Linked DNA regions of Homo sapiens: regions 1, 2 and 3 are each linked to region 4. The links come from fine-mapping of genetic effects on gene expression. A gene starts in region 4. Each other region holds a variant in brackets. All regions are shown on one strand. Distances are between the middles of the regions.

Region 1 (8,276 bases), 78 kb before region 4:
CCATGGGTGTAGTCTCAGAATCTACAACAATACTTTAAACATGATAGATGCTTTGTGAACATTTGCAAATATTATTACAAACAAAGCACATAGATGTCGTTCAATATATCTGTCGGATGAATGACTGAAGTCCAGAGGACTCAAGGGACCCACGATTATACTTAACATTTTTTGGTATCTGTCCCACTGGAGGTCCAGGGATAGTTGAAGCCTCGGGTAGTCATACTGGAATTGCTGGCTGAAAGACAAAATTATTTTCAGAATCCAGCTTTTTTCGAAAGCTGTAATTTAACTTTGCTTTGATGCACAGAATTTTTAATCTATGTGACTTTGGGGAAATCTGAAATTGAAAATGTGCTTCCCTATGCAGGAACACTAGCTGGCATATTAAGCAAAAGCTCTGTAGTTTATGTTTAATGCCAGCTTGTCACTGATTTGTGTTCTTTTTCTGTTCTTGTCACAAACTCAGATCACTGAGAGTATTGTGAAGACTACTTTAATATTACCTTAAAATCCCTTGACAAATAAAAGATACAATATAATAAATCACCAGCCCTTATTTTTTAAGATTATAGAAATTGTCATATCAATATATAGTCACCGCAGAGTAACCCAAAACCAAGATATTAACAAACATCAAATGAAAAATACAGCTGTTTGCTGAAACGTCAACATTATAGAAGCAGTAGTAAAACTTGTGAGTGTGTTGTCTCTTTCCAATCATGTAGGAAAACTTTGCTGAACTCACGTTGAGGAGTGGTGTTTGGCCTCAAGGCACTCACATCTACAAGGGTCACTGAAGATGTAGCTGGATATCCTATTTTGAAAATAAAATTCCCAAATTATTATATGTATTTACATTCGTATGTTTAACTGTGCCACTACATTTAACAAGAGCCTGGAATATTAGAGTTGGAAAGAATCTTAGTGAACAGCCTCATTTTATAAATGATGAAACCGAATCCAAAAGGAATATGCTTGTGGTTAAATAATCAATATCCAATATCATTTCTTTGCTATTAACCCGGTTTCCTAATTCTAAATGTATTATATTCATACTTTCAAAATATATTATTTCAGTGTCTACTGTATGCCAGACTCTATTCTGCACGCTGGGGATATAGTAATAAACAATGAAGACAGGGTCCCTGCTCTCATGAAACTTACCTTATAGTGAATTTTCACAAATACTACTGTGAAAACCGTATCTTCACATGCTAAATATGGTTTCATATTTACTTCAATTGTTAGTTTGCAAAGTCATTTCTCCATCTTTATACTCCATAATTGTTACATTCTCTTCCTTCCCCCTCACTCCCCCAAAATGAAAGACTGATTCATATTCATTTGAAAATAGCTCTATATTTTAGAACTATTATATAAAGCAAGGTAGATTAAAGAAGAATATCCAACAACAGTCCATTGAAATCAGGTTTATATCTCTTGGAAATAAAAATTTTAAATACATTTTGTGTGCATTTCTCTTTTGGTCCAAAATGTATTTAAGGTGGTTTATATCAATGTGCAATACAAGAAGATAAAAGCAGAAAGGCAAAATAGGAACAAGGAAAATACAGTAGAAAAATTATGTTGAGTCCTGTTGAAACCTAAACAGGGATAGTGGACAAAGTGCATTTCCTGATGTCTTATGCTCTTAGTAGATGTGGGCCCCACATTTGGTCTGACCTTTCTGGTAGGAAGTGCTAAGAAATAAAGAGTATAGGTTATGTGCTTGATGAATATAATAAGATAAAAACAGTATTATTATGAATAGCTAGAGAAATAGTTATTCTTTTTGTTGTGATTAAAAAGAAACTTTTCCCCAGATCTTCATAAAAAGAATGCTGTATAATTGTGTAAAGTATCCTATAAAATATCATTACAGTATGATAGCCAGTATGTTCATTCATCCTCAAGCTTTAGTTGGTAGTGAATGGCAGCCAGCTTTCCTGGTACCTCAGTTATGTGAAAGGACATGCCTTAAATAGAGAACATGGGCAATCAAATCAAATGAATAAGTTGGCATTGTGGTTAATGCATTTATAAGTAGTTCACATCCAGAGGTCATCAATGATAACCTTTTTTTGCAATGCAGCCTATCAATGAACTACAAAAAGATACTTACACACCGTGGCTTCATGATTAAAAGAGTCATACATATAAAATACTTAGAAGAGTGCCTGACATGTAGTAAATGCTAAAAAGTATGTCTTAGAATCTGTAAAATAGGTCACTTGCAGTTTAGCAGATGTTGATAATACAAGCATATTCTAACTATAGGCCACTTGAATCTCCTGAGGAGTTCCACAATTACCCCATTTACCTTGGTCTTTCTGGAAGAAAGTTGATCTAAGGTAACTAATTCTTTCTTCCCCAGGCCTGGCCCAAGTCAAGAACTACATTCCAAAGTGTTGCACTAGAAAAGGGCTAATAGTCAGAAATACAGAGTGTGATAGTAGGCTGGGGCATTAGCTTTGTGGTAGGGTAATAACTTCTCACTGGCAGAATCACCTACAATTCTTCTCCTCTGCCATCCCACTGAGCCATCAGTACCAGATTCTTGTGCGGTAATTGTAACTTCTAGCTCACTGCCTCCCACCATTCATCAAAGGCTGTATTAATAGAAAAATTGCACAAGATTGACTACCTAAAGCATATATGATGCTTTTGTAGATTGCTTTGAACTGAGTATTGGAACTACATTCCTAGTCACTGTGGAATTGCTCTTATATAGTACTGAGGATTTTCCCATTGGCTGACACTAGATGACAGTCTAATACGATGCGGGGAGGGGTCGCCATTGTTCACTTGCAGTGAGAAAGTCCCTGGGACTGTGCTCCACCACGCCCTCTAGAGGAGGGCCCAGGCAGTCTCTGCATTAAGAGCGGCTGTGCTTCTGGACAACTGCCTTGTTATACCATTTTACAAACCTATGGATCACCAAGTGATTTATAATTTTATTTCTGTCATTAAGAAGACTTTGCTTTTGTTCTCTCTGCAGCAATTCCTTCAGTTACCTCTTTTCAAAATTCTGTATTGTTATGTATTTTTAAAGTTACTTCATATTCCTTTTGGGACAAGACAAGGTAAAAATTATATAGAAGAAAATAAATAAATTAGGTATAAGTAATTTGAACACTGTGAGATACTGAGAGATATGATAGGCTCTTCCTAATGAATAAAGATGGTTCTTTCCTCCTTCCTCCCCTACCTTCTCTCTCTCATGCTGAGAATTAACCTCCAAAAGTATTTGCTGAGAGACTTGGTAAGTAAATTCAAAGGAATTGTTCTTAACAGTGGTGCTATGATAACAATTGTCATAATGAGGATGATGAAAAAGATCTAGGAAATAAACATCAAAGAACTTAATATTTATTTGTAAACTACATGACCACTACCTAGAAATCTCAGTCTAATAAGCAACTGCCAGCAGCCTTTAAAAATATATCTTACCTGCAAGCAACAGACACTTTCCTATGCCAGCCTGGTTGCCCACACTGGGTGCTGGCACTGACCAGGACATGTGATTTAATTCTGGCAGGAATCACAGGAATCCTGATGAAGTATAACTTGATTGGGAATTTCATTTATATTAAAATGACTGATTAAATGTTCTCTTCTGGAGGTCAGAAAATAATGTGACATAAATCATTTCTCAAGGGTTACTGCAGGAGAAGGAGAACTCACTCATTTGATTCTACCTATTATGTTATTTAGGGACCTTGTTGGGGGAGAAACATGCCTCAGGGATGCATGCTGCCTTAATCCTTGTGTGACTATGTCTCTGCCCCAACTTAGACATCTATGTTGCTTTACCCTTCTCACACACAGTGCTGTGGAGTACATTGAGGGCTGAATACATGCCAAGTGTGGGGAACAAAAAGATCAATGATACCTAGTCTCCTAGTCTCTTTCCCCAGGGAGCACAAAGTTATTTCGCTCCTATTGGTCTCCAGCTGAATTTTCTTTAGACTTTCACTTGAGGGTCTGAACCAACTTGACAGGTTATTGGGATAATGACCCCTTTACTATGGGACCTCACTCATTATGTAGAAGTCAGAGTTAAAGTCTTTTAGAGAACTATGTAGTTCCTAGATAAATTAAATCTACCCCTCTCTCTCCCACTTTACACTGTGGTTCAAGGTTAAGGCCCCTTCACATTCCATGACCTGATCTCTAAAAACCTTCACATAGTCCTCTCTTGATACTCCCTGCATACATTTTTTTTGTTTGTTTAACCAACATTTGAGAGTCTCTAAATTTCAGGCACTGTGCTTGGCACTGGGAATACTGCTCTCCTGGAGTTTAAGTTCATGAAGGAGATGGACATCAACCAGACGATCACATAAGCCAATTCAAATGCTAGAACATATTAAAGCAGGGGTAGCCCAGTCAGAATCCCAGGAAAGCTTTCCCAAGGAATTTAGTGGGAGATTGTGGCCAGCGGAGGGAGGGTGGGAGCTTTCAGGCAGAGGGCATAGCCATGCAAAAGCCCAGTGTGTGGTCTCACATGTCATGGATTAGTAATAGCCATGTCTGGCACCTGTCCATTCCAGGGCTGGGCTTTTACAAGCCCTCAGGGGTGTTTTTTCCATGTGCTGAGTTGAACTGGATGTGAGAGCTAGGTGGGGCGTTACCTGCCAAAGTGCATATCCAAGACAAAAGCAGCAGGAGAACAGTGACCAAACTGTGGCACAGTGTGCAGCAACACTGCTTATTTCTTAGGAGTTTTGTTTTGTTTTAAAAAATCCCTTCTTAGAACCTGACCTGGAGATTCTGTAACTATATAAGAACATGTCTGACTGTCTCTTGATATCATGCAGAGAATTAAAAAATTTTATTTGCATTCCTCATAGCCATGTTTTTGAAAGATTCATATTGATCATATATTTCCAGATGTGAGAAAGCTTGCTTTGTACCTTTTGTTTTAAGGCTAAGTTTATATTTCACAACATAGCAAAATCTCTTCAATATTCAATAGTGTGTTCTAAATCATGAGATACTATGTAGGCAAGTAAGATGACAAACTCTGTGATAGGGAGTTGATGGCTTTGTTTGCTGATTGTTTATTCCTTCTTCAATGTAAATGTTTATTATTATCAAAT[C/T]TTGCAAGTATCCAGAGTTACACTATAATGACCCATGTCTCCAGGAAATAAGATGAAATTTAGAGGTAAACACTACTTCACACAAAATGTTTTGTTTATACTAGCTCAGAAATGGCCATGAGGTTACATGAGGAGGTTTGAAGCCTTCCTGGCTCATTTCTATTTTAACTCTTTAAAAATTTTCTCACTAAAATAAAAAAAAACCCACCCTTTTATGCTATCACTGGAAATTCAATTAAGTTAGAAGACAGCTCCAGTCAGTGCTGAATTGAGTGGGCAGACAGAAACATGTTCTAAAAGAGCTAATTCTGGTCATCTCCATGTGACATCATTAAGCAGAACTGAATCTCTTAACCTATACTCTTGCCAGTCTTCCTAGTGACCTAACTGCTAGAGAAAGGAAAGGTAGAGGAAGGCTAGAAGACCTATGGTTGATTAACTTTTGGGAAATACTGAAATATTTTCCAAACAACATAGATTTTAAAAATAATTTAATATGGACCTACTATATGCCAAATAAAAGAAGCAAGTGAGCAGTTGCAAAGTAGCATAAGTGGAGCATAAAGAATAAGCTGGTAACTTAAAAAAAAAGCGAGGCCGGGCGCAGTGGCTCATGCCTGTAATCCCAGCACTTTGGGAGGTTGAGGCGGGTGGATCATGAGGTCAGGAGATTGAGACCATCCTGGCTAACACGGTGAAACCCCCGTCTCTACTAAAAATACAAAAAATTAGCTGGACATGTAGTCCCAGCTACTCGAGAGGCTGAGGCAGGAGAATGGCGTGAACCTGGGAGGCGGAGCTTGCAGTGAGCTGAGATCGTGCCACTGTACTCCAGCCTGGGCAACAGAGCGAGACTCTGTCTCAAAAAAAAAAAAAAAAAAAAGAGAGAAATAAATTTGGTCATTGTTTCCTCCTTCAAGGAATTAAAAATTACATATAAAGGTCTTGATTTATTTTGAGATGGTTTTTGCTTACTAGACTCTTAATCATGACATTTCTTCTCAAACTGGACAGTATGAGTCGTAGCTTCATTGTTGTTTTTTATGCACTTTCACATTTGATTCTCCTAATAATTGTATGAACTAGATAATGTTACTCTCATTTTTTTAAGACAAGGAAACTACTACAGAGGTGAAATTGTCACGGGATCCTTGAGGTCTTGCTTTGCCAGCCAGAAATTCTGTGGCCAGTGGCACCTTCTGCCTGAGTATTGCTCACACTTCTGGGCTCATTCCACCCACTTGGTTTGGCAGGCTGTGCTTGGTCTGTGCTACCAGCCTGGATCCCACACCTGCCAAGGGTGAGCCAGGTGCAGAGCAGCAAGGGGTGTGTGAACGAGTGAGCGTGGGGTCTGGCCACTGCACACAGCCAGGCACACTGGCTGCTGAGGCAGGGTGGGAATCTCCAGGCTCCAGCATGGGTGCCGACTCTGTGTGATGCTGCTGCTGGACCAGATGTATGGCAAGCAGTTTCTGCTGCAGGCACTGGTGTCTGGACAAGGGGAACACTGTGGCACCAGAAAGCTTGGAGATGCCAGGAACTGTAGAGCTCCAAAGAGGGTTTTACAGCCCTGGCCTGGGAGGCCTTAGGTCTGGGCTCCCTGAAGGGCCACAGCTCTTCTCTCCTTCTCATTGCTTGCAATGTGGTGAGCAGGTGGGAGGTGTGTTTCAGCTGGGTTTGTGTTACAACTCTTTCAGTCCCACCATTCAGTAGGTCCCAAGTTCTTGTCTCGCCCCCAAGAAGAACGAGGTATGCTGACAACTGGAGGGTGAGCAAGGTGGAGAGGAGCTTCACTGAGCCACAGAACAGCTCTCAGGAGACCTGAAGTGGGTAGTTCCTTTCCATATGCAGGCTGTCCCAATGAGTGTCCAGCTCTCAGTGGAGAGGAGACCTGTAGTGGGTAGCTCCTTTCTGCAGGCAAGTTGTCTGGATGAGGAGACCCATAGTGGGTAGCTCCCTCCCACAGCTGGTAGTCTTGACTTCTTTCTGAGTCTGGCTGAATCCCCGGTTTTTCATGGGCTCAGAAGGGAGAAAGTGCATGGTGATTGGTCCATAGATGGCCATAGGCAGGCCAGGAAAAAGCACTATCCAATTGGCCCAGTGGTCATCGATGAAGTTATTACTCATATCCATGGACTTCACTTGGAACTGGCAGCCTGGCTCCCAGGCTTCAGGCCATGCCTGGCCTGAAGGTGGGGTTTCACTGGGGACCTACACCTTTCCATCCAGGAACCTAGTCAGCCTCCCACTGTCATCATGCCTTCCATAGCCCAGGCTGTTTGCACCAAATGGCACCTGCAGGCCTGCACCCAGCTGCCCTCAGCCCATCTCCACCTGCTGCCTCCTTCCTGTGCTCCTTGGCGCCCAAAGTCTGGAGGGGGCCAAGGTGGGGGATTGGTGTGTCAGTGCTGCCCCAAGTGTGCACACACCTGGCCAGGTTGTGACAGTGCCTGGGCTGAGCCTCATCTTTGCTCTGAAATTGGAGCAGGTGCTGGGAGTGGGAAGAGTCCAGGGGGTGGAAGCAGGCCCTTCTGAGCCTGCAGAAGCGGGGGTGTTCCCAGGCCCTCAAGAGAGCAGGGGTGTCAGGGTCTGGAGCCACAGCTGGGTGGCTGCAGCTGCCCTGAAAGCCCAGGGCTCCTGCCTTGCCAAGTCAGTAGGGGGCAGGCTCCCTCCTGTTCTCAGCCTCTACGGGCTCAACAGTCCCAGCCAGGCCTCCCTCACTACAGCTGGCATCCCCACAGCAGCTAGTCCAGTCGGGCAGCTGCTGCCATCAGAATGACTTGCTCTAGGCTACAGAGCCAGTAGGTGGCAGAGACAACAACTGAACCCAAGGCTGTCTGACACTAAAGACTATATTTATTCCATTCTGGTAGCCTTATAAGTGTAGTTAGCCTTGCTGCAGCATGCATCATCATCATCAGGGCCTAGCCACGGAAGAGCTCACTCATGATGTCTAGCACGCAACCACCCAGAATAGCAGGCCTTTGATAGCTTCTCTTCCTGTCCCACCACCACCTTTCAGCTTCCTGTCCCACCACCACCTTTCAGCTTCCTGTCATAAGGCTACCCAGACATCAGCCCTAGCCAGATGGCTTTTCTTTAGGGAGATATCCTCTGCATTCCCTAAAGCCTTCCTTTGTTAATCTCTTCTTTTTTATACTTAAAAAAATT
Region 2 (8,276 bases), 100 kb before region 4:
TTCATTCACAAACTATTGCTGAATACAGAGCACGTCTGGCTGACTAGGTTTCTTCTCTGACACCTATACATTCTGCTTCAACTGCTTTAAAAAAGATTGGTAGGAGCAGGGTTAATTAATCAGTGCTGGTCTGATTTGAGGCTCTTTATCTTTTTCAAAACAGATCAAAACAGGCAGATTAAATGAACAGGTAAATCCCCAGATGAAAAAGAGAATAACTGGAATTAGAAAGTAGGGTTGGGCTTAGGCTGCCTGTTTACTTACAAAACAGTTTGGTTCCAGTTTGATGGACATACACACGAAGGCACTCAAATGAAACCACTCTTGGCTAATATAATTTTAGAGGCCAGTGGAGTTTTGTATCTTCTAGGCTACTGGGTTTTTGGCTAATTATCTCTTTGATCCCTCTTCATCCTGGTCCATGTGGCAGGAGTCTGGGCTGAACATGGTAGGAAGACAGTGAAGGAGGATTGAAAATGTGGTTCCTGTGCAAAGTATTCTGTTTCCTTCCATGAAAATAAGCAACAGAATTTCAATATGAAGACTAACCATACTTCTCCATTACTTGGCAGCCTTGTTAGCACTTTTACATTTTCTTTTTCCTGTAATTATCTTAGGGAATGCAGCAAAGCCCCAGGATTTTGGCAAAGAGTTTACAATGTTGATAGATGTTCAAATAAGAGGATCAGGCATGGGCATACAGTTGAAACCATTGTTGTCCCTCCATCAGAGAATTTAAATGAAAATACTGTATTTTTTTTTAAAGATGGCAGACTAATATGTACTTCTTACATAAGCAAGAAAACCACTACGAATTGCATTGAGTGTGAACATGACATATCCTCTCACTCTTGGTTAAGCTTCAGGCGTTTGGAGATGGAAGAGGGTGAGTTGCTGGGAAAACAGGTCACTCACTTCTGACTTCCATTTCAGCTGCAGCAAAGGCATGGCTGAAGAGCGACTATATTAATAAAGCACAATGTCTACCTTCTCAATAGGATTCCAGCAGAGTTCTGCCATGGGGCAAAGTCTCACGAGACTAGAGGGTCTCCATCTCATGATAAGGCAGATCACTTTCGTTGGGCTCTTGAATGCAAGTGTACTTGATGGGAGGTGGTGGTGGCTTGAAAGGTGGAGGTCTTTCCATTCTAGGAACAAAATATTGGTCTTTCAATGCTAAGAATTGAGGGAGTCTTATGCACACACACACACAGACATGTGTTGTTTCTTTAAAGGAGAACACAGATTGATGAGAAAGAGACATACTCTCCCAGTTCTTTCAGCATTTTTGCTGGCATAACCCTGTGCCTGTTAGTCACATTTGAACCTCATGATCTATACGGTATTTTGTAGTTTGCAAAGAATTTTTATCATAACATTATTTACTTTGTATGTAGAAATTGCCTCACCATCTACAGATAAAACTGAGCATTTTTATCATAACATTATTTACTTTGTGTGCAGGAAATGTATCATAACATTATTTACTTTGTGTGCAGGAAATGCATCACCATTCTACAGATAAAACTGAGGCTCAGAGGTTTTAAACAACTTGCTCAAGAGAACCAGACCAACAATTCAAGTCTTTTCACCAGAACTGATACTCTCCATGACAACTGCCTCCTAATAGAAGAAATGTTTCTTTTATGTGGATTAAAATATTCCTCCAGAGACTAAATCTTAAAATCCTAGGATTTAAGACTGAAGCTTTTCATACAGCCTCTTTGCTAACCCTAGCCCCAGCCTTTGCCCAAACACTCACTATGTACTGCGGGGATAGGGTAGAGATGGGAAGTAAAGCTCTTCTCAATCCCCGAGTACTGGCTAGATAATGCCTAAATCCCTTTTGTTTGAATCAGTGAACATTCTTAAAGTCATCTTTGTACAAAGAACTATTTTATGTTAGTACAAGTAATCTCTTTTTCCGAAATGCATTAAAGAGCCAAGTTAGTATGGAATTTAGCTATACAAATGCTCTAGCTATCTTGATATCAGGCAACAGAAATATATCTGTGAACATCTTTATGTTCATCACTCAAACACCTCTATGCCCTGGCAATCCATAGCATCTTAGGAGAGATAAAGAGTGGGTAGTGGGGGAAGGAGGATAGAGAGATTGATTCTCATCTCCATATAAAACAAACATTTGAATACAGAACAATTTAAAAAATCAGTTCAGATTTTCAGATTTCATTTGTTCATTTAATATAAAGCTCTCTAATCCCTATTACCCAATTTTTAGATGCTTTAATGGAGACTTCATATGTATTAATAGGTAATTCTACGAAACATGCACTTTTGTTTTACTTTTGTTTTTTGGGGAATTATGAGTTTCTCAAGGTCATGTGGTGGCCAAATTGTAGTCCTTGGAAAATAATCCAGAATTTCTAACTACTGGTTTAGTGTTTTGTTCACCACTCCCTGTATGTGGTTACAGAGTCTTCAAGGATACTCTGCAAAAGGTAGGAAAGTATATGGCACAATGGTTAATGTTATCTTAGAGTAGTAGTAAGACAAGTGGAAGATCAGTTCTGGGTACTGGGGTCCCTTCCAGTTATGGCCCAACCCAGACTGACTCAAAATAGCAAGTCAGAAAAATGAGGCTTAACCTTATGTACCATTTCAGACTGCCGATTGGAGAAGGCTTTTGGAAAATATTTCAATAAGACAAAAATGGGGTAACCCAATGCTTACTTTCTTTTCTGCTTGGGAAAAAAAGAAAAGGGCAGTAAAAGCCCACTCTGGTAAAAAAAGCAGCTGGAAATCTCTTAAAATTACCTTTCTCACTCAATTTCACACTTGAGCATCTATGACCAGTGGAGCCTAGGCAGTTCAAAGATGCATGAAAATGAAAAAATAATGAAGATTAAAAGAAAAATCAGTTTTAGTTTTGAGGAGAGGTGAGGCTCAGTTCTCATTTCATGTCCACGGACTTGCTCTATCTGACGAATGTTACAGCCTGACTAGGCCAATGCAGAGAGGGATACTGAGTCAGGAGTTGTGTATTTAATCCCAACTATGTAATGCTGGGAAAGCTATATAATCTCTCTGAGCTTCTGTGAGCATTATTTCCCCATTAAAATATGGGAGGAACTTCATAGAGTAATAATATATTGTACTGATGAATATTTTATAATGAAAAATTAATCTGTTCCTACATATGTTAGTATTATACTCACATTTCTTTTTGGTACTGACACCATTTTCTCACTCCAAGACCAAACAATATCATGCAGCAAAAGAGTAAAGCTGCTACAATCACTGGCCAGGACATTCCATCTTTGGGCTTATTGACCACAATACCTGAAAAGGGCATAAAGAAAGATGAACTTTAATCCCAAACTTTGGCATTTGGAAAACAGGATTAAACCATTTTTCCTACGTGAAACATATTTTCTTCAACATTGGCTGTGATCATACTCTGGAGGTGGGCATGTCTAAGCCTTGTTACCTACATGAGGTGATAACTTTTAAGAGTTAATTACGTACCCTACCAGAAATTTTCTGTGGATATATATAAGCATACATATGTACCATGAATATATACCCTTTTTATTACAGTTGGGGGCATATTATACACACTATTCTGTCCATGATTTCTTTTTCTTTTTTTTCACTATTTTAGGTTCAGGGGTACATGTGCAAATTTGTTATATAGGTAAATTATGTGCTGTGGGGATTTTGGTGTACAGATTATTTTGTCACCCAGGTAATCAACAGTGCCTGACAGGTAGGGTTTTTTTTTTTTTTTTTTTT[TA/A]ATCTTTACCCTCCTCTCAACCTTCAGTAGGCCTCAGTGTTTGTTGTTCTTGTCTTTGTGTCCATATGTACTCGATGTTTAGTTCCCACTTAATAGTGAGAACATGCTGTAGATGGTTTTCTATTCCTGTGTGAGTTTGCTTAGGATAATGGTCTCCAGTTCCATCCATGCTGCTGCAAAGAATATTATCTCATTCCTTTTTATGGTTTCATAGTATTCCATGGTGTATATGTACCACGTTTTCTTTATCCAGTCACTGTGGATGGGTGTTTAGGTTAGTTCCATGTCTTTGCTTTTGTGAATAGTGCTGTGATAAACATACGTGTCCATGTGTCTTTATGGTAGAACAATTTATATTCCTTTGGGTATATATCCAATATAATGAGATTGCTGGATCAAATAGTAATTTTTTTTTTAAGTTCTTTGAGCAATAGCCAAACTGCTTTCCACAATGGCTGAACTAATTTACATTCCCACCGGCAGTGTATAAGCATTCCCTTTTCTCCACATCCTCACCTGCATCAGTTTCTTCTTCTTTTTTTTTTTTTACTTTTCAGTAATAGCCATTCTAACTTATGTGAGATGGTATCTTATCGTGGTTTTAATTTGCATTTCTCTAGTGATTAGTGATTTTGAGCTTTTAAAGTATCCTAAGAAGGTAAAAATCATTTTACATTTTTAACATTTTACATTTTACATGTTTTTTTAAGAATAAGAGGCCAAAAGACATACACCTGGCCTCTTTTTCTTAAAAAACATTCTTGGAATACTTTCCATATCACCACACAGAGATTTACCTCATTCTATTAGATGACTGGATAGTTCAATGGATATACCAGTTTATTTAATTTATCTCACGATGTTAGATGGTTAAATTGTTTCCAGACTTTGTTATTGCTAATGATACTCCAGTGAAATTTCTTATACATGATAGATAGGTCTTTAGGTATTTCGATTACATGGATCATTTGGGCAAAAAGCTATCTGGATTGGTTTTCTTTCCTTGTCTCGGCTAGGTAGTAACTGCTTGTGAGTGAAGACAAGGATTTAAATTTATTTCATTGCCCCGTTTTTATTACACTGCTTTTCATATAGCAAAATCTCAAAAAATACAGGTCAAAGAACTAGATGTAATATTAGTTATCACATCTTTTCTGTGTTTTTACATAGCCTGGACTGAAACCATGTGATGTTATCATGTTAGCATTGGTTAGAAGTGTTGAAGACAGTTCCCTTTCATACAACATACATCCAGGGATTCGAGGTCTTCCTGATTCTCACCCCTGTCAAAGTAGAAACTGAGGGTTCCCTGGAGACCCATGTAGTCCAATAATACATAATTATGTGACACATTGTATATACAGATGACTAGAAAGTTTACATAGTTCAAACCACTAGAGTAGCATGATCATGAAAGAGACAATTGGTCAACTCAGGACTAGACAAAGTTCTGTTTCACACAAGTCAAAATTTACTAAGCTCTACCATGGTAATATGGTGGGATATAATATTTTACGTCCAAAGTTTTAGATAAAGGAAAGAACAAAAGGTTTTATTTTATTTTTTTTTTCCATAAGTTATTGGGGTACAGGTAGTGTTTGATTATATGAGTAAGTTCTTTAGTGGTGATTTGTGAGATTATGGTGCAGCCAACACCCAAGCAGTATACAGTGCATCATATTTGTAGTCTTTTACCCCTCGCCCCCTCTCATTCTTCCCTCCAAGTCCCCAAAGTCCATTGTGTCATTCTTATGTCTTTGCGTCCTCATAGCTTAGCTTCCCACATATCAGTGAGAACATATGATGTTTGGTTTTTCATTCCTGAGTTACGTCACTTAGAATAATAGTCTCCAATCTCATCCAGGTCACTGCAAATGTGTTAATTCATTCCTTTTTATGGCTATGTAGTATTCCATAGTGCATATATATATATATACACCACGGTTTCTTTATCCACTCATTGATTGATGGGCATTTGGGTTGGTTCCACGATTTTGTAATTGTGAATTGTGCTGCTATAAACATACATGTGCAAGTATCTTTTTCGAATAATGACTTCTTTTCCTCTGGGCAGATATCCAGTAGTGGGATTGCTGGATCAAATGATGGCTCTACTTTTAGTTCTTTAAGGAATCTTCACACTGTTTTCTATAGTGGCTGTACTAGTTTACATTCCCACTAGCAGGGTAGAAGCGTTCTCTGTTCACCACATCCATGCCAACATCTACCATTTTTTTTGATTATGGCCATTCTTACAGGACTAAGGTGGTATCGCATTGTCATTTTGATTTGCATTTCCCTGATTATTAGTGATGTTGAGCATTTTTTCATATGTTTGTTAGCCATTTGTATATCTTCTTTTGAGAATTGTCTATTCATGTCCTTAGCCCACTTTTTGATAGGGTTGTTTGTTTTTTTCTTACTAATTTGTTTGAGTTAGTTGTAGATTCTGGATAGTAGTTCTTTGTCAGAAGTATAGATTGTGAAGGTTTTCTCTCACTCTCTGGGTCATCTGTTTACTCTGCTGACTGTTCCTTTTGCTGTGGAAAAGCTCTTTAGTTTAATTATCTTTGTTTTTATTGCATTTGCTTTTTATCTTTGTTTTTATTGCATTTGCTTTTGGGTGCTTGCTATTTATCTTTGTTTTTATTGCATTTCTTTTTGGGTTCTTGGTCATGAAATCCTTGCCTGAGCTCATGTCTAGAAGAATTTTTCCAATGTTATCTTTTAGAATTTTTAGTTTCAGGTCTTAGGTTTAAATCCTTAATCCATCTTGAGTTGATTTTTGTATAAGATGAGGATCCAGTTTAATTCTCCTACATGTGGCTAGACAATTATCCCAGCACCATTTATTGAAAAGGGTGTCCTTTCCCCACTTTATGTTTTTGTTTGCTTTGTTGAAGATCAGTTGGCTGTAAGTATTTGGGCTTATTCTGTTCCATTGGTCTATGTGCGTATTTTATACCAGTAGCATGCTGTTTTGATGACTATGGCTTTATAGTATAGTTGGAAATCAGGTATGTGATGCCTCCAGATTTGTTCTTTTTGCTTAGTCTTGCTTTGGTTATGTGGGCTCTTTTTTGGTTCCATATGAATTTTAGGATTGTTTTTTCTAATTCTGCAAAGAATGATGGTGGTATTCTGATGGGTATTGCATTGAATTTCTAAATTGCTTTTGGCAGTATGGTAATTTTCACAATATTGATTATACCCATCCATGAGCATGGGATGTGTTTCCATTTGTTTGTGTCATCTATGATTTATCTCAGCAGTGTTTTGTAGTTTTTCTTTTAGAGGAATTTAGACTCCTTTGTTAGGATATTCCTAAGTATTTCATTTTTTTTTTTTTTTTTGCAGCTATTGTAAAAGGGGTTGAGTTCTTGATTTGATTCTCTGCTTGGTTGCTGTTGGTGTATAGATGAGCTACTGATTTGTGTACATTAATCTTGTATTCGGAAACTTTGCTGAATTCTTTTATCAGTTCTAGGAGCTTTCTAGAGGAGTCCTTAGGGTTTTCAAGGTAAACAGTCATCATCAGCAAACAGTGACAGTTTGACTTCCTCTTTACTGATTTAGATGCCCTTTATTTCTTTCTCTTGTCTGATTGCTTTGGCTAGGACTTCCAGTACTACATTGAAGAGGAGTGGTGAGAGTGGGCATTCTTGTTTTGCCCTAGTTCTAAGAGGGAATGCTTTCATCTTTTCCCCATTCAGTATTGTGTTGGCTGTGGGTTTGTCATAGATGGTTTTTATTACATTAAGGTATGTCCCTTGTGTGCCAATTTTGCTGAGTTTTAATCATAAAGGGATGTTGGATTTTGTTGAATTTTTTTTTGTATCAATTGAGATGATCATGTGATTTTTGTTTTTAATTCTGTTTATGTGGTGTATCACATTTATCGGCTTGTGTATGTTAAACCATCCCTGCATCCCTGGTATGAAACTCACTTGATCAAGGTGGATTATCCTTTTGATATGTTGTTGAATTTGGTTAGCTAGTTTTTTTTTTTTTTTTTTTTAAGGATTTTGGCATCTATGTTCAGCAAGGATATAGGTCTGTAGTTTTCTTTTTTGGTTATGTCCTTTCCTGGTTTTGGTGTTAGGGTGATGCTGGCTTCACAGAATGAATTAGGGAGGATTCCTTCTTTCTCTATCTTGTGGATAGTGTCAATAGGATTGGTACCAATTCTTTTTTGAATGTCTGGTAGAATTCTGCTGTTAATCCATCTGGGCCTGGACTTTGTTTTGTCGGTAATTTTTCTTTTATTTATTTATTTTTTTTTTAGGCGGAGTCTCAGTTTGTCACCCAGGCTGGAGTGCAATGGCACAATCTCTGCTCACTGCAACCTCTGCCACCCAGACTCAAGCAAATCTCCCACCTCAGCCTCCCAAGTAGCTGGGATTATAGGCGCCTGCCACCATACCTGGCTGATTTTTGTATTTTTAGTAGAGACGGGTTTTCACTGTCTTGGCCAGGCGGGTCGTGAACTCTTGACCTCATGATCCACTGGCTTCAGCCT
Region 3 (8,276 bases), 160 kb before region 4:
AATTCAAATGGCCATATTCTTCTTGGTTTCTATGTGGGTTTGCCAAGTCAGTTTGTTTGTGGAACCTTCCATTCCCTTGTGCTCAGTGTATATTTCTGCACATTTCTGGGTGTTCCCATCCTTCCTTTACCTTCTGTCTGCTTTTTTGACTCGTCTTTATTGTCCCTAAATTTAAATGTTTTCCAGGGATCTGTTCTGTATTCACTTCCTCTGTCCACCTTCAGAGACTTCAGTCCCACTCCCCAGTTTACCACAGTATCATTATGCAGATGACACCAAAAGCTTCCTTTCTAGCCCAGACTCTTGTAAGTTGCAAACTTACATTCCCACCTTCCTGCTATGGCCTGCCTCCAATGGCCTGCTCACACAACAAAGTGCGTATTTTCAAAGTCTAGCTTCTCCTGCTGGCCCTCTCATCCCCACAAAGTGCCTCTCCTGAATTTCTGCCAGTAGTCACCCAGTCACTCAGACTTGAAATCTTGGATTCTATTTAAACTCTTCCCTCTCTCTCACCGTCTTCATTTAACCAGTTACCAAAACCTTACATTTGACCTTTGTAACATACATCAAACCTGTCTCTTTCATTAACCTTCAACTGCCACTGTTCTCATTGATAGACTCATTGCCTGTCAAATAGTACCAAAAACCACCCAAACAAACAGAAACCCTAATTTGGGTCCTTTCACTCTAATTTGTTCATACTTAAAAGGTAGTTTTCTTAAGATACAGCTTTGATTATGACACATTCCTCCCACTTCCCGCCTTCCAAATAAAGCTCAAACTCAACACTGGGGGTTTAGAATTGTCTTCAATATGGTACCAATGCATTATTTCAGACTCATCTCTTACCAGGCCCCTACTTATAGCCTGGAAACTGTTGGTATGCAACATACACAGATAGGCAGGCCCCTTTCTGGACTCTGTTCACTTTTGCTGATACTCTGTAAAATATTTTCTCACCCCAAATATGTCTATATTTTCTCCCCAGCATTTGTAACCCATATTGAGTAAGTTGCTTTTTCCATGTCTCAGTTTCCTCATCTGTCAAATGGGCCAATAGTACCTATTGTCACAAAATTATTGTGAATATTGAAATGTAAGCAAAGTGCTTTGAACAATACTGACACTTAGTAAGTGCTGAACTGTAATTATTGCTATTATTAGCCATTTTTAATTAGTCAGAAATCAGAGTGTGAAGGGCTGATTAACTGAAGCTTCTTGCCTTAAATACTGATGGTCTAGAAGATTTTATTTTCTGTACCTGATTCATTGTTCCTCTCTATCTTATTAGCTGACATGGAGATGAAAACTTAGCCTCCACTCTGTTGACTATAGCCACCACCACTGTTTTGGTCACAGTCTAAGTTTGTCATCACCCACATTGAAAATCTTAAAATTTAATTTCTGACTTTTTGATCACAAGTTTCTTTACTTCTGCCACGCTGCAACCTGACTTTTATATTCTGCCCCTGACCCCCCGCCCCGCCCTACACAGTCTGAGAGCCCACAGCATTGGCTTTACTTCATCCTTCAGTTATATCCAAGATCATCCACTTGCCAGTTTTCACCTGCAGAATTATTAATTATAACTATCTGAAAGCTGTTAAGAGCCTGCTGAGGTATATTGTCTGTCTATACAGTCCTGAAATACACATACGAATATTAATATGACATTTTCTAACACACCTTTTTACTAACAACAAATTTTTTTTTTCCTCTTCTCCAATATATTTCATTTATAGAGGAGAAGCAATATGATCTTAGGAAGTAATTGGCATCAAATACTAAATGACTGTTTTCAGACTTCTCTGTGCTGAGAATTTTATGGTCATCTAAAAACTATTCCATATATAGCAGTAAATATGGACATACAAGTCCCTCCTTAATGTTCTATATGCATAGGACTAATTTTAGCCCTTAGAAAGGTGAAGTTTTTTTCCTCCAGTTTCTAGAAATTGACTTTTCTCTAATCCTTTCATTTTCACAATTACTACCCCTGTTTCTTCCTATTTTCTTTTACAGTCAACAGTCATTAACGGTGTTTCTTTTTCCTTTCTGTGTGCATACAAAAATCCTGAATCATGTATGTGAAAGCACTTTATAATGTAAAGTGGTGATCCTCAACCTTAGATGCATATCAGAATCACTGGGAGGTGGCAGAGCAGGGGGCGCTTTTAAAAAACACCAGTGCCCATGAGCTCACCCCAAACCTTCTAAGTCAAAATCTCTCTGGGACGGAAGCTGACAAGCTTCTTGCTGATTCTAATGTATACCCAGGCTTGATACTTACAGCCACAAATGTAAGATTATAGTTTCCCAAAAGTTCTCTGATTTCTGGGCATGGTCTTCTCTGGCTGGACTTCTAGTACTTTCAAACCTTCAAATAATAATCTGGTGAAGTGCCTTTCCCATGTATTGGTAGATGCTTTCTTCATCACTCCTTTTGTTCTAAGATACACCCTGCCCTTTAACCAATTAAATAACCACAGCTTGTTTGTGAAGAAGAAAAATATTGGGAGGCCTTGGTTTCCTTATCATGCCTCCTAGTATGTGATTAGATTAGGTTACTTAAGGTTTACTAGGATCCTTGGGATGTGCGCTAGGTTACAGAGCTCAGAATCAAGTCCCTGTGGCAGCAAAGTCACACGGGAAGAGAGAGATTTGAATGCGAAAAGGTTAGCAAGATTTTTACTCAGTGTTATAGTTATTGCCTCCTAGGTAGTGTTAGATTATTTGAGAGGTAAGGTATGAGAAAATGAGCTAGCTGGCCTTGTGAAGACCAGGCACAATCAGTTTGCTCTTTATCTGGAACACAAATTACTGCTTGATTCTTCCTGAGGGTTGCCATTTGGGGATTAGAGATCTCAAATGAGTGCATTCTAGTTTTTAAAGCACTTTCATTACCCATTTCTTGCAAATTGGAGTAGCTGCCATTTTCTGAGCTCAAATAAAAAGAATTTAAAGCAGGCTTCTTGGGAACCTGGTTTATAAATAAAACAAAAAGAATTCAAAACACACACTATGAAATGATACATTTCATTACAGTACAATGGCATTTCAGATTACATGATGACCACACTTGTAGCCATGGAGGGAAGATTGAGACAAGAGTTAAGTGAAGCTTATAAGAAGATAGAGAGAAACTCCCCATCTGGGTAGGTGAGGATGGTGACCCTAAGTCAAAGAACTCCTGACTTCACATATTTAAGAAAACCTCCTGTCTTCACCTCCCTTAGGTCCTCCTGTCTCTAAGTCCTTCTAACTTTGAAGCCCATTAGTTCCTGCAGGTGCTTCACTGATCCCACTCTCCCCACCCCATGTGTATTGACACCATTCAGTGTATCTGTGCCTTTAGGCACTGACATTGCAAAAATTTGTTCTTAGGGAGTGAAAAATCTTATTCTTCTATGTACAAAGTACAGATACATCTGAGTGTTATAATTTCACAGGGGAGGAGGGGGGGAAATAAGGAATAGAAATGCCTAATAAGACTCCTTCAGGGAGTGATTATGAACAAAAGGCTGAGACAGACCACCACCCTAGACTGAGGTTCCTGGCTTGTCTGGGCTGAACCTCTGACACTGTCTCTTTTTATCCTTAATTGGCCTGCCTCTCAATGCCTCCAGCAATGTTTCCCTCCCATCCATAAGGTGACCCAGTACTGGAAGGTTCTATTCCCATCCCCTGTCTCTAGAACACTAATGGGTTGGGAACCACTGAATTTCTTCTTTTCCAGTAATCTTTTTAAGTATTCTCACTTGCAATTTCCAGGACTACCAACAAATCATTTTTCTGTCTACACAGTCCCAAAGGACTCAGACTTGCACTTTGTAAGATACTAGTTAAGAAAGAACTTCACAAATGGTGAGTCCTAACACCTAACTTAGTGAATTACCATAGCTCTGAATAAGCTAAATGGAGTGTCCCCGCAGTGGATAGGGGCACAGAGTCTGTTGTCAGGCTGCCTGAGTTCATAATCCTGGCTCTACTGCCTACTAGTTATGTGAATAAAATGCTGGGCCTCAGTTTCCTCATCTGCACAATGTGGACAACAGCAGTACTAACTTCATTGGTCTGTTGTGAAGACTAAATGAGTTAACTCAGGCAAACACCCAGAAGAGTCCTTGGCTAATAGAATGAGCTCAAACATGTTATTATTATTAATTATTAAGAAATTTGTGTCATCTTTTATTTGGATGATACTATCTGAGAAACAAATAATTCTGGTTTTTAAATAAAGCCATGAAACCTCAGTAAATATTTATATTTGAGGATCTGTCATGGCAATTAACATTTAGGGCTAGGAAAAATGAAGTCTGTAGTTTAAGTCATTTATTTTAGGTTACACCCAAAATCAACATCAAAAGGAGTAAGTTTGGATCATAGTATTCTACAGTTGAAATTCAAATTGGCACTAAAACTAAAATTATAAATTATTAATATCTCTAGTCTGCTCCTATGTCAGTACTTGGAAATAAATACAGTGACTACACAATTTGCAAGTATAAGACAGAAAATTCTGAGGATGTTCTTAAACTTTTTATTTTTAACAACATAAAATTAGATGTCATCAAGTGATTTTTATGGAAAAACAAATCCAACCTGTTGCCAAAAAGATGTTGAATGACAGATTTTTTGAGAGTAGAAGCCTATATAATCCATTATTTGAAATGGAAAAAACAGTAATGTCTTCCCAACCCATCAAAAAAACCCTATCAGTTTTCTCAAATACCAAATATCATTAAAACACTCAAACACCAATGTAATCATCCACAGATAATCTTTCCCTAATATAAACAGCAGAACCAGTAATATTTTCAGAAGTTTTTCTGTATTTTTTTCTACAAATTAAAAATATTAA[T/C]GCATAGTTCTTAGAGATGTAAGTATGGCCAAGTTTATGTTAGTTCATCTCTCTCAATATGCTTTATCACCCAATTTTTCTTTTTAGGCCTCTCGAGTGTGCTTGTTTTATTCAGAGGCTTTTTGCTTTCTTAGAAGACATTCTCACTCAATAATGTGGTAAGTTGAGAGCGCTAATGCACAGCTCGAGCCTGCTGGGAGGGTAGCTGAACTATGGATGTAACACATTCTCCATCTTTTTGACAAGGTGTACCTGCAACTTAAATGTTTTTGCTAGCTCACACGATGGGATTTTTTTATTTAAGTAGTGAATTCTGGATAAAATAAATCTTATAAGTTATAGCAAATGTTTGGATAGCAAGAGTTTGGATGGAATATCTACAGACGTGTTTGGAGCTAAGGTCTTCTCGGTTACCAAAGTATTTATGTGCATGTCTATGTGTACATGTTGGCACTAAAACTGGCCCATCTTAAATGAAATCCAGAAAATTCTCTTATTCAGTGGAAAAAAAGCCCACCTTTCATTTATTTGGAAATATGTTTACTAATATCAATAGAAAACTTCTAATAGATAATAATTATTCTCTAAAAATTCTTTTAAAGACAAATATTATTTTGAGCTCATTTTTGAGAGTCATCTAAATGCCATGTAAGCTCCAAATTTTTATCAAGACCTAAATCATATTATTTCTATCAAAACTAAGATCATCTGGTCGGTCCATCGTAAGCTTGGGCTAAAAACATATATTGGATATGCATGTATTTTCTATAACGAATAGTCAGAGTGTTCAATTAAAGCTTGTCTATTTTATCTCAGTCTGAATTTTAGGTCACATGTCTGTAATTTGCATATTCTTTCTCTATTAGCCTATACTTTGTCAAGTGAGGTCAGAGTAATGCAGGCAGCTTGCAAAAAAACCAGGTGCGGCTATCTTTCCAGTTACCCACTATAGCTGATGCTGCATAAAATTGCATTGAATGTCAAATTTAGTTTTCCTAATTAATAAAAAATATATAAACTAAAAAAAATTCTAGGCAAATTAATAAGATCTCAGCTGCAAAGACTCTTCCCTGCCCAGCAACAGCAAAAAGATATTAAAGGTGCCCAAACACAAAAGACCAAAAAAAACCCTTTGCTCACACTTTATCTTAATAAAGCTAAGTAATTCATATGATGCTAGCTACCAGAAGGTGTCTGGGCAGCAGTAAAGGCTCAACTAGGTCAGAAGACAATCTGTGCAAACAGCAGAAGAGAAAGCAGTATCATGCTTATAAAAAGATAGAAGATATAAGTGTTCAAGCCAAGAAAAAGAGTAATTTTTTCCCATCTCTGAAGGACGAAAATGAGAACAGATGCCCCCCTCCAATGGAATTGAATCAGAGATGTCCAGCTAAACAATAGCTCCTCCTCCCTCATCACTGCCATCTTTGAGGGTTTCAGAGATGTCAACCTCATGAGTTGTTAACCAATTTTAAAGAGTTGAATTTTTCTGAGAAAAAATAGTAGTCCCTTCTTATTTGCAGTTTCAATTTCCACAGTTTCAGTTAGCCACAGTCAACTGTGGTCCAAAACTATTAAATGGAAAATTTAAAAAATAAACAATTCATAAGTTTTAAATTGTGCCCCATTCTGAGGAGCGTGATGAAGTGTTTTGCCATCCCACAGGCCTTCCAGCCCAGGATGTGAATCATCCCTTTGCCTAGCATATCTACTTGGTAGAGGTTCCCCAACCATTAGTCACTTAGCCATCTCAGTTATCATTAAAACACTCAAACACCAATATAACCATCAACAGATAATCTTTCCCTAATGTAAACAGCAGAACCAGTAATGTTTTCAGAAGTTTTTCTGTATGTTTTCTACAAACTGAAAATACTAATGATGAGTTCTTAGAGACATAAGCATGGCCAAGCATGCCTGTTGCAGTTTCACAGTGTTGGTTTTCCAGGAACCCTAACTCTACTTGAGAATGACCCCAAAGTGCGACAGCAGTGATGCTGGCATATTGTTATAATTGTTCTATTGTATTACTAGTTATTGTTGTTAATCTCTTACTGTGCCCAATTGATAAATTAAACTTTATCATAGGCATGTATGTACAGGAAAAATTACAGGATGTATAGGGTTTGGCTCTATCCATGGTTTCAGCAGCCATTGGGAGCCTTGGAACATACCACTTGCAGATAAAAAGAGACTACTGTAAGAAGATTTTATGATTTGATTTATGGAGAGCCAGAAGACCCTATCTTCATAGAATTTCTATTAAAAATGTTTCAACAAGATTTTTTTTTTTTTTTTTTTTTAGAAAATGGGTAAAAAAATGAGATTTAGGCCCTCAAACACATTATCTCACTAAAAGTGCTTGGATTTTAATGACTTATGATTTTTAAGAAATTCAACATTTTTTTCAAATGTACTAAAACGAAGGCAGTCAAAACATTCCCACTCAAGTTCACCCTGATTAAAAACTCTGAATATATTCCTGAGGTTTAGAGAAACCACTACTTCATTTTACAAATGGCTGACAACATATGTCTCAATATGCATACAGGCAATACAGGCAAAATCAGCAGGCCAAGTTTCTGGAAGAAGAGCCATTTAGGAGCTGCTCCTCCTTCAGCATGAATGTCCACTCTCAGACTTTGACAGTGATGAGGATATGCCAGAACACCTCTCTGGCCCTTCAGAGAGCACCGGCCTAGCTGGACTCCGGATCCCTTAGGGTCCAGCTCTGACTTCCCATGGAGGCTGTCACCAGCTCACTTCCCTGTGGAACATCTTCCTGACTCACAACAGCAGCCAGCTCTGCCAGGACTATGAGCTTCCAGGTACAGCCATGTTGAGGGGCATGGCCACAGAGCAGTGACTAAAGGGACTAGTCTACAAAGGATGTTAAGATATTGCTTGGAAAAACTGCAAATTTGGTGCCAGTTGCTGCAGGTTTTCACCAGTGACTCCTTATGAAATGGGCAAGATGTTAAAAAAAAAAAAAGCTCTCTTCAATGCACATAGTAAACTCTTTATCTTGAAAATGAACATGCGATAAGAGAAAAAGTCATTTTTAATCACCACTCTCCTCTAAGCACAGTGAATACTGGTAGCTGGAGTATCTTCTGTTTGCTGAGCACCAACTGCAATATTCATCTCTGGCATTAATAGCTTTTGACATACTTGAAGCAGTATTAAGCAGTGGGTAGGGGTATGCCAATTTAGAGATAGACTCTTGGAAAGACCTCAGTGGATCTGCTGAGGAAACAGAGAGAGGTTGAGAAGCTGGGAGTGAAGGCTGAGGAGGGTGAGAATCAAAGGGGAAAAGGAGAGGGATCAGAGGGGGCTGCAGGGCTCAGAAGAAAGACTCAGGAAAGGAGGCAAACCTAATAGAAAATTTTCAAAGCTGCAGTATACTTTCACTTCT
Region 4 (8,276 bases):
CTATATAGGTCTTCCATTTCTCTTTACTTCAATCCCACTCCACTCCATCCTTAATTGAACTGAAGTGTGTGTGTGTGTGTGTGTGTGTGTGTATGTGTCTGTGTGTGTGTGTGTGTGGTGTGTTTTCCTCCTGGAAAACAGCAAGGGAATTGGGCATTATAAGATAGTAGTTGATGGGACCTTGGCCTATAGGTGGACTGTTCCAACAGCATATTTTTAAAGCAAGTAAGTTATAAGACATGGAGAGGAGGCTATAAATCCATACCTGTTGCTTGTTCTGGACAGCTCTATGCCCCCTTTAATATGACCTTCACGAGTTATTTTTTTTTCTTATATTACCAGGCCACTTTGCCCTGAGTTAGAACCAGTCCACTGCCAGTGCATTTTGCATCTGTTGGCTTTCACTTTCATTGTTTTCCATTAGCAGAAATGAAAATCATTTACTTTAGGACCAGGTAATTTAGGGCAGGCATTATTATAATCATTTTCCAAATGGGCTCAGAGAATTTACACCACAGGCCCCAAGTCAAATTTTATTTCTATTCAGAAAGGAGCTAGAACTTAAATCTAGGATTCCCACTTCTAAATGCAGGCCTCCAAAGTATGTTTGGTGTGAATGCTTCATAGTTAGCAGCTTCCTTTGTCCCTTTACCTGCCCTAGACTAAATATTGTATACCCAGAATCACTTTCATAAATTCACCCACAAACCTTCCTTTACCTTCCATCACAGTGAATAGCACCACCATTCAGGTGTGCATGCCAGACACCCAGATGTCACCTTTAACTTCTTTCTCTCCTTCCTTCATACTGCCCTTGTCTTATATTCTCTCTATGATCATATCTGTTTTATGCCCAATGAACAAAATTTGCCATTTTCCTTCTATATCTACCTGAACTACCACTCTCTCTTTTCTGGGCTACTGAGGTGGTCTCCTGAGTTGTCTCTACCTTCTCCTTCTTGTCCATCTTCACCTCATTTTCACATGAAAGTCAGTATGACTTTTTTTTTTTAAACAACACAAATACAGTCAGCCTATAAATGTCATGCCATCCTTTTGTTGGAAATACTTCCATGTCTTCTTATGGTTCTGAGATCAAAATAGAAACCTTTTAAAAGGGAAGCTGACCAGGTCCAACATGATCTGGTCCTTACCTGCCTTATCCTTTAATTGCTGTATTGCTGTCCCACTGGCATTTTCCCATTTCTTCAAACACTCCAAAGAGCTTCATGCAAGCTCTTTTCTCTCTCTGGGATTACTCACAATCCCACTCTGCCTCAGCCCCACCTCCTAAATTGTGGTAGTGTCTACTCATTCTTTAGACTTAAGCTATGGTGTTAATTTCTAAAGGACAATTTCAATGGCCTCTGTGATGTGCTCCTTCACAAGACTGTTACAGTATTTATTATCGACACTTATCACTGTTGCAAGTTTACATTTATTTACTTAAATGCTGTGGTCACTTCCTGTCTCTCTTATCAGACAGTAGCTCTTTCTGCTCAACCTTTGTATGCTGAGCACCAAGCCTAACCTTGCTTTTCTTAAAATGTACATTTGTTGAATGAGAGAGAGCTGAATGAAAGCACATCCCTCTACCAGTTATGCTTACCGTGTGTCTGAATGAGAAGGTTGTAGATTTTAGTCTGAATGCCCTCTGGATACAGAACAAGCATACACTCGTACCTTCCACTGACTGAACAAGACATATTCCTTAAGTGCAGAGTCCATTTTGACCCATTCTCAGGAGTTTCTGTGAAAGTCACAAGTGACTCACAGGGTCTCCCATAGGCACAGTAGAAGCCGTATTGGGGATGATAGACAGCAATCAGGTCTATCTTATTGGTGACCTTGGACCATTGCATCTGCACGAAGAAGCCTACTGTCTGTGTTTGGCAGGTCAGGTTGACATCAGAGCCAAGTGTAGCATAAACATTTTCTTCTGTGTTGACTGTTTTTTCCCAAACTCCTGAAAAGAAAGAACATGAGCCATGAGTTTAAATAATTCACATAGAATGACGCTTAATTAAAAACCCTAGTCACTTCAGTAAGGTGAGGGGAGCAACTGAGGAAATTTCTCCCTGGCTGCTTTAGGAATAGAGTAGAGCTTGTGTCTCACTCAGATAGAGATGCATGAGACAATATAAATGAGGAGGCATTTACGTAGAGAAGCTAGAGGTAATTACTGACTTCTAAATATTTATCTATGTGTTGGTCTGACCAAAATATAATTGAAGGTTTCAGACTACCTGTGAATAAAATTAAGCCTATTTGAAAATTGAAGCACACCAGCAAACTTAGTATGACGATTCTTCTTACGTTTAATATAATTGGCTTTTTGGGTTATAAAACGACAGCTGAATATAATACACACGTGATGCTTTCTGAAACTGCAAAAATAAATGATATGTGTATAGCAATTTCTTTGAAAAATACATGTTTACAAGGGCCTTTCATATCTTATCTTGTTTAATCCCCCTCACACGCCATAGGTGATGTTGTTAACCCCTTTTTATGAGGAAGAAACTGGGCCACAGAGAGATGAAACAGTATGCTCAAAGTCACACCTCCAGGCCTGGCGCAGTGGCTCACGCCTGTAATCCCAGCACTTTGGGAGGCTGAGGTGGGCAGATCATGAGGTCAAGAGAACCAGACCATCCTGGCCAACACGGCAAAACCCCGTCTCTACTAAAAATACAAAAATTAGCTGGGCGTGGTGGTGCACGCCTGTAGTCCCAGCTACTTGGGAGGCTGAAGCAGGAGAATCGCTTGAACCTGGGAGGCGGAGATTACAGTGAGCCGAAATCATGCCACTGCACTCCAGCCTGGCAACAGAGTGAGACTCCATCTCAAAAAAACGAAAAACGAAACAAAACAAAAAAAGTCACACCTCCAGTAAAAGAATGAATTCAGTTGCCCAGAGTCTGTGGTCTTTCTATAACCCTCATAAGTATAACAGTAAAACTCCAGCCAAGGAAGACAAAGAGACCTTTAGAGACCAAAGAGAACTTTATTTAATTCAGGCATCCAGGCCCACAGCAGACTCATGCCCAAAATGGCTGCTGACTCTGACAAAGAAAGCAGGCTTGCTTATATGTCGTTTGAGGTGGGAAAACAAGGCAGGATACAGGTTTCAGGCAAAGACAGTAAATTATTTAACCCGTGACAATTCTGAGAAAACTTACAATTTAGTTATCTTAACCAGTCAATCTTGAAGCTAGACAGAGATGGGGTAAGGTAAAACAGGAGTTACAGAAATATGTGGGGGTCTGGGGGCAGGCAAGAAGCTTGGAAGGTTGAGATAAGCTCACAGCTGCAACTTGTTAGCAATGCTGGGAGGGGCTACTTAAATTTCTTAGCCTACATATAACTTCTAAGTAACCTATACTTAATGTTAACTATTACCTATGTTATGCTTATTATTTTAAACTTTATTATTACTTATTTTATTTTATTTTCCTTCCACATAACTTCCAAACTGTCTCCCAAATTCAGTCTAGTTGATTAGAGTAAGAAATTTCACTTTCAATATACAAGGATTGAAAGGACCTCATCTAACCTTAGGTAGAGGTTCCACTTAGTATCACCTCTAATCGATGGTCTGAAATACTAGACATAAGTAGAGTCTCTTTCCCATCAGCAGTCTGACTGAGTGATACAGGACACTTAAAATGTGTTAAGCATTGAGACTGTGACATGCCTTCAATAGTGTTGGCCTCAGTTTTAGAATTAACATGGAATCCTGTTACAGAAATGATATATATTATTGTGACAAGTACCACTGAAGCTCACAAAAGGAAAAGATAAAAAGATGACAAGCAACTGAGAAGAAACAAGCCTCTTAAAAGTAAAAGTACTTGACAAATGGGAATTATCATACTTCTGTGGATGCAAAAGTTTGGTAGGCAGAGGTTAGTACAGTTTAATGTAACTTCCTGTGAGCTATCCTTTGCCTGAAAATATGGCTCTGATCCTATCTACAGCATTATATTCCAAATCTCTTTTGATTTAGAAATTCTCCTTAATATTTTCATAGCTATGTCTGAAAAGCACAGTTAATTCTTAAGACACTCAGGCTTACTATGATACTCTCATACTGTGGAATACAGAACTAATCTTGCTTCCTTCTCTTTTTAAATAGGCCCATTAGGCTCTCGTTCCCACTGTCATAAGGATTCCACTTTGTCTCCCAGGTTCATACCTACACATGCCTCATTAAAATTCAACGTGTTTTCAACTCCCAAAGACCTTAGTATTTGGATGAGAAATACTTGTTATATCCAAAAGAAAGAGAGTACTTGAGAGAGAAAAAAGTTAAACAAGGATCTCTGAGCGTTGATGGCTTTGTAATTTTTAATTTTTCCGCAGTTGTTTTGGCTACCATTTGGAGAGCATTTCATTTCCAAGAAACACAATTTGCCAATTACTCCAGAGATCCTGTTAGAAAGGAAATGGGTGAAAATGCCTCAGAGCAGTGGCACAAATGACCCATTCCCTTCTTATTTTTAGTGTTCATTAGTAATCATTTCTAGATTCTAGCATCTCTCTTATACCTGCCGCTTAAATACATAACTGAAACCCTTAGTAATGATTTGTCCTTTGGTGATCAATTTCAGCAGCAGTCACAAGGCATTTTAAATGAACAGAGGCCCCATCCGCCCCTAAAGCGGCCCATCCGACAAGAAGGGACAACTGGAAGTCTTACCCTTGACAAAATGTATCTGGATGATGTAATAGACAGCACAGTATTTCCATTTTTTCTCCATTGTCTTCTGAACACCTTACACCAGCATTTCTGTAATGATCACAAAGTCAATTGATGTTTTCAAGCAAACTCCAGCCACCCACTTCGTGCTAAAAAACCCGAACTCTACCACACACGCCTGGGTCTGTTTATCACTTGGCAAGCCCCCAGGAAATGAAACGTAGACAGGAAAGTAATGTGGTTCAGGACTGAGTATAACGTTCGACAGAACAATGTTGAAATTGTTCTCTGAAATTTGTGTATCACCTTATTTAAGAGACTTTTCAGTATCCAAAGAGTCTCTTATTCAGGATCTCTGTGTCAGTCAAGCTGCGTCTAAAATCCAAACAAAGGATATCACGCAGAGCAGTTGGCAATGTGCTTTTTATACATTTTTTTCAAGAGCACAAAGTCATTTAACAAATGTGAGCTTGGTGTTTTTCATAATAGTTTTTCTGTTCAATCTTAAGATATGTTTTCTTTCCAGAATTGCCCTGGGGTGAAAGAACAAAGAATTAACACATTTAATTTTAATAAAATCTGAAAAGTAACAGGGAATAGTGTCAGCTATCAAACCAAATTTTATTGTCTCTCCTCTTGCAGGGAAATGCACATTTCCTGGGAGTGGAGGAGTGAGGGCTACTTTTCTACCCCTCGTCTGGGAAGACGAGGGAAGGTTGGAGGTCAGATAGGGAAGTCTCCCACCAGGTTGGCTGGAGGCCATTTTTGTTCACCACAGAAGAGTTTATCCATGCCTAAGCCAAAGCAAGGCAGTAACAATCAGAATCCAAAGGCAGAGAATTCCCACCTCAGTGAGCTATTAGGCTTATTACATCTGCCTAGTTACTTCTATTTACAGAGAACCGCAAACAGGTTTCAGGAAAGTGACCCCTTGGTAAAAATGTCTGGCTATTCGTAGAACACGATGACTGTTCCCTGCTATGATTCTCTGATTTAATTGTATTAGTTTTTCAGCCTGAGATAAAATAGGCTGTCATCACCCTCCAACATTAAGAAAACAAGCATTAGACTGAGGACTACTGTAAGTTTGATGGACAAAGAATAACTACAAATAAACATGTGTGTCTTCATACAACCGTATGAATGATTAAAATATCCTGTGACCCTAATCTCATTACTAGAATATACGTACCACCTAGCAAGACCAAAGACAAATGAAAAGGCCAGTTGTAATCCTGAGATGGGAATTCTTTTCAGGTGAGGTGGAGATAATTTTCGTCAGGTTGTCATCATGTATACACCAATCTCTCCTATGCAAGGACTCGTGGTGAATATGGACGATGCTAAGACAGAAGGAAATGCTTTTGCCATTCAGGAGATTAAATTTAGATGGGAGAAGAGAGGTTTTCATGTAAATAAACAAGGGCGACTGTCTTCCTGGACGTCCAGATCACCCCCTATACCACCACTGCAAATACTTGCCATGATAATTGCCATACTTATTCAGTATTCCTCAGCTAATGATTTCTTGCAGAATTTAGATGTAGTTACTGCTTGCCTAGTCCAGTGCTCCCCAAACCTTTATTATCACCCCTTCCCAACTTCCCATGAGTTTCAGGTCACTGGGGATATTGGGTCAGGTAGTACTGACAGTGATTTTCCAGGGAAGGCCTGGGAACTCAAAGTCCTTTATAGAAGGTCAGGAAGAGACATAACTGCTCTGGGTAGCTTCATCTCTTCCCATTGCCCCTGGAAATTCTAGTAAATCAAAGTTTTATGAAGCATAGCAGCAAAAATAGTCCTGGAGATGCACTATGAAGATCCTGATTTGCACGTTGGTGTCCCTATTAAATCAGGACACATTACAAGCCTGGAGAAGGGATTCTATGATCTCGTTCCATTTTTCATATTAAGAGGAATTTACCTAAGTAGAAACCAATTCAAATATACATTTATTGAATTCTCTAAGAACAATACCCTCTTTGGGGTATTTAGACTTCTCCTATCTTTTATTGTATTAAAGTGAAACAGTTGTTCCAAAAAAGTCTGTAAACTCAGAAACATGGAAATGGTCGTTTATTTTCCAGTGCTACAGACTTACTTTCAGTAGAATTCTTGCCTCTCATTGGGGTTGGGCTACCTGAGCCATGCATTTAGTGGCTATACGGCAAATCTGTCTTCTGTGTATTGTTCAGGGCTTAGTTAATGATTCTTATATCTAGAAACTTCTATGGCCTGAAGCCATCAGATTTGATTAATTTTTCTTTGGGATCCACACAGGTTCTGAAAGTATAACAATTTCAGATGCATGGCCACAGAATATTAACTGAACGCTTACACTTCGGGTGTCCTGCAGCTGCAAGACCCAGGCAACAGCCCCTCCATGGCTGTTTGCATGCAGCAGGTGGCAGCAACACTCCGCAGACTGGCACGGCTATCCCAGGTGATGGGAATTGCCCCCACCGCCTTTCAATCCTGGTAATATTTTCTAAAGGCTCTTTCAGCATGGGGATAGACAGGCGTTCTCTATACTTAAAAATAACTCTTCTATGGAAGTCATGTCAATCTCTTCTATTATCCTCCCTACCCACCATATCCCGATTGCACAGGGTTTCTTCTGCCTTATAGTCTGCTGCACATAAGGAGAAAACAGAAGCAAGTCAGTTTCACACACAAAAAGAAATCGTGATCTTCTTGAACTGCAGAGGCAAATTCAATTATTTACAAAGAGAAGCAGGAACACACATTATTTCTGCTAAAGGCAAGCCATGATTGTGTGTTTTGGACAAACTTTTTAAATGCTCTAGCTAAACACACTCAGTGAGAAAAGGACATTTTCAGAAACAGGAAGTTGAGCAAAAGGTAAACTTACTTTTGTGGTTTTCATAATGGTTAACTCAAATATTACTTACTTATCTTTAAACACTTACTAAAAATAAAAATGGGAGTGCTATACTTTTGCATGTTTTCCAAAATGCTTAGAAAACATGATGGTTAAGGTTTCAGTTAATTAAAAAATACTTGCTGTATGTCAATTCTTAAGAGATTACTGAAGAGGCATAGTTCTAGATAATTTTAAAATACCAAAGATAAAACACAACCCTCAGTTTTAAGGCAGTTACCATTTAGCTGGGAGGAAGCATCCATGTGCACCAAAAAAGTCAAGCAGCATAAAGCACAGCCCAAATGAGAAGGTAGGGCAGGATTTTAGCAAAGGGGGAGTTATCTTAGGGGTAGAGTGGGCCAAGAGCATATGAAGTATGGAATCTAAACTTGGCCCTATAGGCGTCAGACTGGTAGAAACCGCAAGCTAAGTCATTCCAGGCAGAAGAAACAGGAAGAGCCAACACTTGACAGTGTTGAAGTTCAAGGCCATTTAGTGAGTGGGCTATTCCGGTTTAGCAGAGGCTGTATTAGGGGACTTGGAGCAGACAAAGCTGTCCAAGAGCTTTGAATTCTAGGCTAAAGGGTGTGGGTTTTTTCCTCATGTCAGAGAGACTCCCTAAAGATATTTCAGCATATGAGTCATATATTTAAAGTAACATTTTAAAAGGATAAATTGGGTGGGCGTGTG

The links. PIP is the estimated chance that this variant, and not a neighbour inherited with it, causes the effect.
Region 1: its variant is fine-mapped to the expression of CD96 in whole blood (INTERVAL, PIP 0.96).
Region 2: its variant is fine-mapped to the expression of CD96 in whole blood (INTERVAL, PIP above 0.99).
Region 3: its variant is fine-mapped to the expression of CD96 in whole blood (TOPMed, PIP above 0.99). The same link has a PIP of 0.9 or more in blood mononuclear cells.

Annotation. Positions count from the first base shown.
Region 1 is chr3:111,616,295-111,624,570 of GRCh38, reverse strand. It overlaps CD96 (CD96 molecule), which reads right to left. Exons shown (of 14, transcript NM_005816.5): 9 at 749-817; 10 at 167-238. Among named protein-coding and RNA genes, the nearest start is that of ZBED2, 25 kb to the right of the region's middle. RefSeq lists enhancers at 7,067-7,567, 7,568-8,068. The variant C/T (reference allele first, on the strand shown) is at 5,106.
Region 2 is chr3:111,642,570-111,650,845 of GRCh38, reverse strand. It overlaps CD96 (CD96 molecule), which reads right to left. Exons shown (of 14, transcript NM_005816.5): 13 at 3,180-3,303; 14 at 1-1,148. The coding sequence ends at 1,040. Among named protein-coding and RNA genes, the nearest start is that of PLCXD2, 28 kb to the left of the region's middle. The variant TA/A (reference allele first, on the strand shown) is at 3,757.
Region 3 is chr3:111,694,049-111,702,324 of GRCh38, reverse strand. The region is part of intron 1 of PLCXD2 (phosphatidylinositol specific phospholipase C X domain containing 2); the gene reads right to left. Among named protein-coding and RNA genes, the nearest start is that of PLCXD2-AS1, 21 kb to the right of the region's middle. The variant T/C (reference allele first, on the strand shown) is at 4,862.
Region 4 is chr3:111,538,736-111,547,011 of GRCh38, reverse strand. It overlaps CD96 (CD96 molecule), which reads right to left and starts at 4,815. Exons shown (of 14, transcript NM_005816.5): 1 at 4,703-4,815; 2 at 1,610-1,966. The coding sequence starts at 4,763. It overlaps LOC105374039 (a long non-coding RNA gene), which reads right to left. Exons shown (of 3, transcript XR_001740846.1): 3 at 5,009-5,077.